2 separate regions of the Homo sapiens genome follow, and region 2 is linked to region 1. Evidence: fine-mapped expression QTL. A gene starts in region 1. The other region holds a variant in brackets. All regions are shown on one strand. Distances are from middle to middle. Region 1 holds the start of NSD3 (nuclear receptor binding SET domain protein 3). Region 2 overlaps ASH2L (ASH2 like, histone lysine methyltransferase complex subunit).

The links.
Region 2: its variant is fine-mapped to the expression of NSD3 in putamen (GTEx, PIP above 0.99).

The regions. Positions count from the first base shown.
Region 1 is chr8:38,379,617-38,384,136 of GRCh38, reverse strand. NSD3 (nuclear receptor binding SET domain protein 3) reads left to right here and starts at 1,866. Exons shown (of 24, transcript NM_023034.2): 1 at 1,866-2,338. It also overlaps a transcript of LETM2 not described here. RefSeq lists silencers at 960-1,309, 1,500-1,649, 1,680-2,079 and enhancers at 1,728-2,518, 2,809-3,343.
Region 2 is chr8:38,134,157-38,138,156 of GRCh38, reverse strand. ASH2L (ASH2 like, histone lysine methyltransferase complex subunit) reads right to left here. Exons shown (of 16, transcript NM_004674.5): 14 at 2,391-2,489. Among named protein-coding and RNA genes, the nearest start is that of STAR, 15 kb to the left of the region's middle. RefSeq lists an enhancer at 3,453-4,000. The variant T/C (reference allele first, on the strand shown) is at 2,081.

The DNA.
Region 1 (4,520 bases):
AAAAAAAAAAGACCAATTTAATCCCTCTTTCCTGGAGATAGAATTAAGCTAGACTTGGTGGCCCGCTTTGGCCATCTGTGTTTTAAAATGTCATATCACAAATAAAAAGTATGCTTTTACTGATAGCTGTAACTTGTGGTACTACTTAAAGCATACGTTTAAAAATATTTAATGATTAATAGTAATGAGATTTTTTTTTTTTTTTTTGAGACATAGCCTCTCTGTGTCGCCCAGGCTGGAGTGCAGTGGCGCGATCTCGGCTCACTGCAAGCTCCGCTTCCCGGGTTCACGCCATTCTCCTGCCTCAGCCTCCTGAGTAGCTGGGACTACAGGCGCCCCCCACCACGCCCGGCTAATTTTTTGTATTTTTAGTAGAGACGGGGTTTCACCGTCTTAGCCAGGATGGTCTCGATTTCCGGACCTCGTGATCCGCCTGCCTCGGCCTCCCAAAGTGCTGGGATTACAGGCGTGAGCCACTGCGCCCAGCCAATACTGATAATTCTCAGTATCTAGTATTAACCGGGTTACGTTTAAAAAAAATAGTTCATAATTAGTGCCCTTTTAAATAACTGATCTGTAGAAATCATTTAATTTCCTTAAGTGATATTTAAAGATAGAGATATCTAATTTCTTGTAATAGTACCAAAGACATCCAGCACTATAACGTCTACAGAGTATGACGTCTAGCGGTAAAATGGCTTTATTCTCAGAACAGAGTATCGGTTTCCTCATTTGCTTGCTGCCTCTGTTTCCTTTTTACGTTCACGTCTCTGTGCTGTAACCTTCCAAATCCTTATCACCAGGCCCCAGGAAATATCACCTGGTCGGCACACTCCTGCAGGGCCAGATCACTGTGCACACACTTAACCTTCCATTGTTTTCCATACGTTTCCTAGGATGCGGGGGGCTAGAGGATGACGGAGAGTTGCCTCCCGGTTCTTCCTCTCGTTCTTATCTTGGGCCCTCTAGGACAAATGTCCCTCACGTCCCTCGATGCGAAGGTCTGGCCGCGAGCAGCCGCGGCCTCCGGCACGTGACGGTCACGGAGCCGTCGCGGTCCCCCGCGGCTGGGGGGCACCCGGGGATGCGGCGGGCGCTGACGTCGTCCTCCCGGTTACCCACAAGCCTCCGGGCCGCAGCAGAGCAGGAAGAGGCGCGCGGGGCCGGCGCCTGCCGGGGAGGTCGAGGCGCTCCCTCGGCGAGCCGGCGCCGCCGGCCGGGTCTCCTACTGCTTGCAACCGGGGGAGGGGGACCATCCGACAGCTCAGCCGGGGCTGAGAGGGAGACGACGCCAAGGCGGTCTTGCATCGCCCCCGGCTTTCCAAATGCAGACCCTACCGGAACCGGAGCCCTTCCCTGACAGCCGTAGGACGGGAGACGGCCGAGGGGTCGCCTGGACTGCCCCGCCCTCGCGCGGTGACCCACCGGGGACCGTGCGAGGGTCGCTTCTAACCCTTAAGAGCTAGAGAGCCGAGTCACCCTGAGGAGCGCCGTATGGCGCTGGTTGCGCGTTGTTCTTTAATCAGCCTCACTGAACGCGCCGATCCCAGTTTTACCTCCCGGGCCCCACCTTTCCACGCCTCCTCCGGCTTCCCGGGGTGTTTTGTGTGTCACTCTCCCACGTACAGTCCCTCCCCGTCCCTCGTTCCTCGGCCCTCTCGCCCGGTCTCCCTAGTCGTCCAGACGCTAGCTGCCGCGGGCGTTCCTGGTTCGCGCTCCCGCCCCCTCCGCCCCGCCGACTCGCCGCTTCCTCCGGAGCCCCAGCGTCCCGAACCAGGGACTGCATTTCCCGGCAGGCGCCGCGGCCCGCGGCCAATGAGGGGCTGAGGATTTGGCGGCGGCGGCGCCCCGAGAGTCGGGGTGGGGGGGCTTTGTGCGCGGCGGCGGCGGGAGAGGCGGCGGCGGCGGCCAGCACGGAGGCGGAGGCCGAGGGGGCTGTGCACAGGTCGCCGCGGAGAGGCGTGCGAATTCCGAGCCGAGCGCCGAGGACCGTGCTACCCAGGCCGGGCTGCCAGCCGCAGGCTCCTCTCTGGCAGCAGCGGCGGCGCGGCGACCCCCGTCCCTCGGCCTCCCCTTCCCATCCCACCTCCCGAGCCTTCCTCTTCCCGCAGCACGCCCGGCCCGGCCCGGCCGTGGCCCTCCTCAGTGCCGGCCGCCATGGCAGAGGCGTCCGGCGCGGGGAAAATCTAGCCCGGGGATTTCATGCGGCCTAGCTCGGTTCCGCCTCCTCCTCGCGCGGCCCCAGCGGCTGCCCGCACCCCAGCCCCACTCCGGGCCTCCGTGTCTCTCCTGTGATCGCACTGACACGGCCGGGGGGTTAGAATGGAACAAACTGAAGGTAAAGTGCGTGTGCGTGTGTGTATGTGTGTGTGTGTGTGTGTGTGTGTGTGCGCGCGCGCGCGTGTGTAGTGCTAGGAAGGGCTGAGGAGGGAACGACGGGGAGGGGGCGACCTAGGGATGGAGCGCCAGACCCCAGGAGGAATGGAAGGGGAAGCGGGTGGCCTGAAAGGGCTCGAGGGGAGTCCTGACGGAGGAGCAGATGGCAAGGTGGGGGGTGTGGAGGGAATTGGGGGGTGGGCCAGGGGAGGTGGGGAGTGGGATGGGAGTCGGAGTGGCGCTGAGCTGGGAATTGGGAAAGTGGGATGGGGGCGGGGATAAGGATGGATCGGGGAGGGGCAGGGAAAGGGGAGAAGAGTTGCATGGAGATTACAGACCTGGGTGGACTGATAAATAGGGAGATTTGGGGATGGAGTGTAGGAACCAGAAGAGTCTGGGAGAAGGGGATAAATTTGCTGGAGAAATGGGGCATTTTATGGGAATGAAGGGAGAAATGAGGAATGGAAGTGAAGGAAAAGGTGGATTAGGAAAGGGGATGAGGCAGGCTGCAATAGGAGAATGGGAAATAGACGCAGGAAACTGGAAGACAGGATTGGGCTAGGGAAGGAAATTAACTGAATGATGACAGGGATGAGAACGATCGACTTAGCGTCAGAGTGGGAGGAAGAGAAGGGGATGGAGGTCGTTAAAGTGTTAGGAAGGGAGGCCTTTTGTTCCTGTATTTGTGTGTATTCTGTGTCTTTCTTTCAAGGCTAGAGAATAGAGAAGCTGGTGGTTATGGGATTGTGATTGTTGTGAAATGGGGAGGTGTGGGTTTTACTGTTTTGAGGGAGAAGGCGATGTGTTTGTGTTATGGAAGGGAGGCAGGGAGAGACATGGCCATAATTTGATGGTTTTGGGGAGGGAGTGAAGATTATTTCGATTTAAAGGGGGCAGGGGCAGCCATGTTTGCTGCCAAGGCACTGCAGTGTAAATAAATTCCTTTTCCTCTCCGACATCAGTATGAATCTGGAAGGGGCCAATTCAGACTGTTAGCCCCCTTTCTTTCTATTCATGAACTCTTTTCCCCTTACGTCTTGGGTCATTTTAAATTATTCATAACCGCCAAAGGAGGTAGTGATGTTTTCCATCACTACCTTTTTGATGCTTTTCTCCCTCTCTTTACCCTCTTCCTTCTGGTTGCAAACAAGGTATGCTAATGAGCTGCAGTGTAAATTTAACCCATTTAATCAATTTAAAACTAGATTTTTACTAGCTGAAGGAATCATTACTACGCTTACATATCAAACATGATCGTGAAGTCTTTTACGTATTGAAAATTCGTTTGTTTCGGAAGCCTCAGAAGCAGTCAACATGTTTTCTGCAATTCTTTAAGTAAACAAGGAAATTGCATCGGTTATTTTACTTGGGCCTGTGCTCTTGGCAAAGCGCTGTGTCCGGGTGAAAGGGGTAGGAAGCTCTGCTTGTGGTAGATTATCGGCTTGCTGTATTTTGAATGTTGAAAAATTAGAAATGTATGTATTTTTAAATAGTATTTCTGATAGCTCTTGCTTATAGGTGATGAGCGTGTTAAGTGATGAGTGTGTTAAGAATAGTATTTTCTTTTTTAAATAAACTCTCTTTTCCCCATCTCTTCTCTTTGCCTTCATGTAGCTGGCTCAATACAATCTCCAGATGCCAGTTCAGCACAGTGCAATGATCTGTGAAGTAGGCATGCAGTTCTTAGAGTCTCATTGAGATGCCAGGGTTTTTTTGTTGTTGTTTTGTTTGTTCGTTTTTTGATTGAAACTTCAGTTGACTCTCAGGAAACTACAGTAACTAATATATTCAACTGTAACTACTTGTACAATTTGAAATAATTACTATTCTAAGGTTTAAATCCTGACAAATTTACAGAACATACATTGGTGTTAAGTAGAGCCTATTTTATTTCATATTGGATTAAATGTGTGTGTGACCTTTTGTTTTTATTATAGCAGTTGGAGTAATCCAAACTTTAACCTATCACATTGATATTGAAACTGTTCTCTAATACCAAGAAGGCCTGTTAACATTGTAATATGGTGGACTCAAACCAGTTGAACTACATTTAACCTACCTAAATGGCAACATCCTCTCAGTTGTTATACAGAAGCTTAGGATATATTCTTGGTTTGTTAGAAAAATGAAATTGAATGTTGTTA
Region 2 (4,000 bases), 250 kb after region 1:
AGGCATGTACCACCACGCCTGGCTAATTTTTTGTATTTTTTTGTAGAAAGGGGGTTTTGCTATGTTGCCCAGGCTGGTCTCGAGGTCCTGGGCTCAACTGATTCTCTTATATTGGCCTCCCAAAGTGTTGGGATTACTGCCGTGAGCCACTCCGTCCAGCCCTTTTTCTTTTTAAAACTTTTAAGCCCTCAAATTCATCCTTGGAGAAAGGCACAGACCACAGACTGTTTCTGTGATTCTGTTTTTTTCTTACAGGCAGGTCCTTAACTTTGGCAAAATAAACTTCTAAATTGATTGAGATCTGTCTCAGATAGTTTTGGTTTACACTGTTTAAAGATTTCCTTTTTTTTTTTTACCTGCTTCAATGGTGCCTACTGACAGACTAAAAGTACATGGAAATCTTCATGCATTAACTTTTTCTTTCTTTTTTGAGACGGAGTCTTGCTCTGTCACCAGGCTGGAGTGCAGTGGCATGATCTTGGCTCACTGCAACCTCCACCTCCCAGGTTCAAGCAATTCTCCTGCCTCAGCCTCCTGAGTAGCTGGGACGACAGGCGCGTGCCACCAAGCCTGGCTAATTTTTTATTTCTTTTTGAGACAGAGTCTCGCTCTGTTGCCCAGGTTGGAGTGCAGTGGCACAATCTCGGCTCACTGCAAGCTCCACTTCCTGGGTTCACGCCATTCTCCTGCCTCGGCCTCCTGAGTAGCTGAGAATACAGGCTCCCGCCACCAGGCCCAGCTTTTTTTTTTCTTTTTTTTTTTTTTTTGTATTTTTAGAGAGATGAGGTTTCACCGTGTTAGCCAGGATGGTCTCGATCTCCTGACCTCATGATCGGCCCGCCTCGGCCTCCCAAAGTGCTGGGATTACAGGTGTGAGCCGCCACACCCGGCCGATGCCCGGCTAATTTTTGTATTTTTAGTAGAGATGGGGTTTCACCACGTTGGCCAGGATGGTCTCGATCTCTTGACCTCGTGATCTGCCCACCTCGGCCTCCCACCAAAGTGCTGGGATTACAGGCGTGAGCCACTGTGCCCAGCGCCACCCCCGCCCTTTTTTTTTTTTTGAGACGGAGTCTCACTCTATTGCCCAGGCTGGAGGGCAGTGGTGTAATCTTGGCTCACTGCAGCCTCCATCTCCCGGGTTCAAGTGATTCTCCTGCGTCAGCCTCCCCCACAGCTGGGATTATAGGCGCGTGGCCATCACATCTGGCTAATTTTTATATTTTTAGTAGCAACGAGGTCTCACCACATTGGCCAGGCTGGTCTTGAACTCCTGACCTCAAATGGTCTGCCTGAGTCACCCTCCCAAAGTGCTGGGATTACAGGCATGAGCCACCGCGACTGGCCTAAGTTTTCTTTTCTTTTCTTTCTTTTTTTTTTTTTTGACACAGAGTCTCGTTTTGTCACCCAGGCTGGAGTAGTGGCACGACCTCAGCTCATTGCAACCTCCGCCTCCTGGGTTCAAGTGATTCTCCTGCCTCAGCCTCCTGAGTAGCTGGAATTACAGGCATGTGCCACCAAGCCCAGCTAATTTTTGTATCTTCAGTAGAGACGGGGTTTCGCCATGTTGGCCAGGCTGGTCTCGAACCCCTGACCTCAAGTGATCCACCCACCTTGGCCTCCCAAAGTGCTGGGATTACAAGCGTGAGCCAGTGCACCCAGCCCCAACTTTTCTATATATCTGTATCTATCTACCTATCTACCTATATATTTTTAAAACCAACAGGCCCTAATGATAGTACCCTTCTTCATGTTTGGATCATATTTAAAAAAAAAAAAAACTTGCCAGATGTGGTACCTCATGCCTCTCTGTAATCCCAGCACTTTGGGAGGCTGAGCTGGGAGAACTGCTTGAGCCCATGACTTTGAGACCAGCCAGGGCAATGTAGTGAGATCCTGCCTCTACAAAAACAAAAACCAAAAAATTAGCACACCCCACCTACTCAGGAGGCTGAGGTGGGAGGATCACTTGTGCCCAGGAGGTCAAGGCTATGGTGAGCCTATGCAACAGAGTGAGACACTGTCTCAAAAAAAAAAAAAAAAAAAAAAAAAAATCATTGTAAGCAACAATGACTAATAA[T/C]GGTGGGTTATCATGACATCCCAGGAGGATTTGTGTATGTGTATTTATATCCTTCCTACTGAACGGTAACACCACACCACGTGCTCAAGGGAAAAGTATGGCGCACACAAACTGCAGGACCTTTTTCTATCCAGCAAATACTCCCTAAGATGCCCAAACTGTTTCTGGACTAAACAGTAATGGTAACAACACATGCGCATGCCACTCTGAGGCTGCTTGGATTTCGTTCCAGCACTCAGTAACTTTGTCATCACAACCCATTCATCTGCTTCCCTCAAGTTTTGCTCATGGGATGGAAACATGTACGTACCGTGCAGCTCTTGTACAGTGAGATGGCTGGGAAGTAAACCCCCTCAAAAATATCTTTGTAAGCCACACCTTGATTGACACCATTTTTATAAAATATTATCTGAAACAAAAACCATGGTTTTACTTCAGAACTGTAAAAAAGAACAAACAAAAAAAGAACTCTCTAGGAAAATATGTTAGAAGTGCTGCTGCCAGACTGCTAGTCACTCACCCAAGAACAGTGCATAACTTGTGTAATAACAACATCTTCAATTTTTATAATACTTTCGATTTTTCAAAGCATGTTAATATGCACTATTCAGGCTTTTTTTTCTTTTTTGAGACAGGGTCTCACTCTGTGACTCAGGCTGGAGTGCAGTGGTGTGATCTTGGCTCACTGCAGCCTCAACCTCCTTGGCTCAAGTGATCCTCCCACATCAGCCTCCCAAGCAGCTGGGACTACAGGCATACACCACCATATCCAGCTAATTTTTAAAATTTTTTTATAGAGACAGATCTCACTGTATTGCCCAGACTGGTCTCAAAGTCCGGGGCTTTGTTTTCTGAATTCCTGTGCTACATATACCAAACATTTCTATATTTTATTATTCATTGCACTGTATTTATAAAAGTAAGCTGGGAGGCCGAGGAGAGAGGATTACTTGAGGCCAGGAGTTGAAGACTAGCTTGGGCAACATAGTGAGACCTCATCTCTACAAAATTTTTTTTTTTTTTTAAAGTAAGCTGGCCTTCCATGGACTCCTTGGGACCACACCTGTTTAAGCGTGCTTGTTTATCAATTCCTTTCCCCGAGTCAGTTCTCACTTCTGCTTTTTCACTTTGAAGTTCTCTAAGACTCTTATGTCACATCTCTGAATCCTCATGTTCCTCCTTTCTCTCCCAGAATTACACTGAATATCCTCTCTTGACCACTTCAATTCTTCAGAAAAGGCTGCCTTCTCTTCCCACAAGAGGGGGCTTTCTGGTTATTGCATCTTTAGATCTAATAATTATTTCTCTTTAGTATTTCTTTCCTAAAAACAGCTGAAACTCGTTTCTTTATTTCACCTCCATCTCCTTCTATTAGTGTCCTGGGTGGCCTCACAGCATTAGCATTTTTATGAAAAAAATGTTTCCAGCTTAACTTTCTTCCTCTACATCCCACTTCCCTTTTTATTTTTGGTGCTTGTGGCTGGCCCAGATGTGCCAGCCTTTCTCTGACTGTGCTATGACCTTGGGCAGACATGTTTCCAGCAACCCCGGAAGTGGAGGCAGAGAAAGTTCTGAAGGACACTGAGTGAGACGTTACAGCTCCTAGTGCCCCTGGGCCACACCACAAGGTCTACTCTCCCACTCCAGGTTCCCTCCCTTTGGACTTGATACCTCCTCTGATAAAGAATAAAGACACTGGACTTGCTTCCTCAGTCTCTTGTAGATTTCCCAACAGGCCACTATTTTTTTTTTTTTTTCATTGATCATTCTTGGGTGTTTCTCACAGAGGGGGATTTGGCAGGGTCACAGGACAACAGTGGAGGGAAGGTCAGCATACAAACAAGTGAACAAAGGTCTCTGGTTTTCCTAGGCAGAGGACCCTGCGGCCTTCCGCAGTGTTTGTGTCCCTGGGTACTTGAG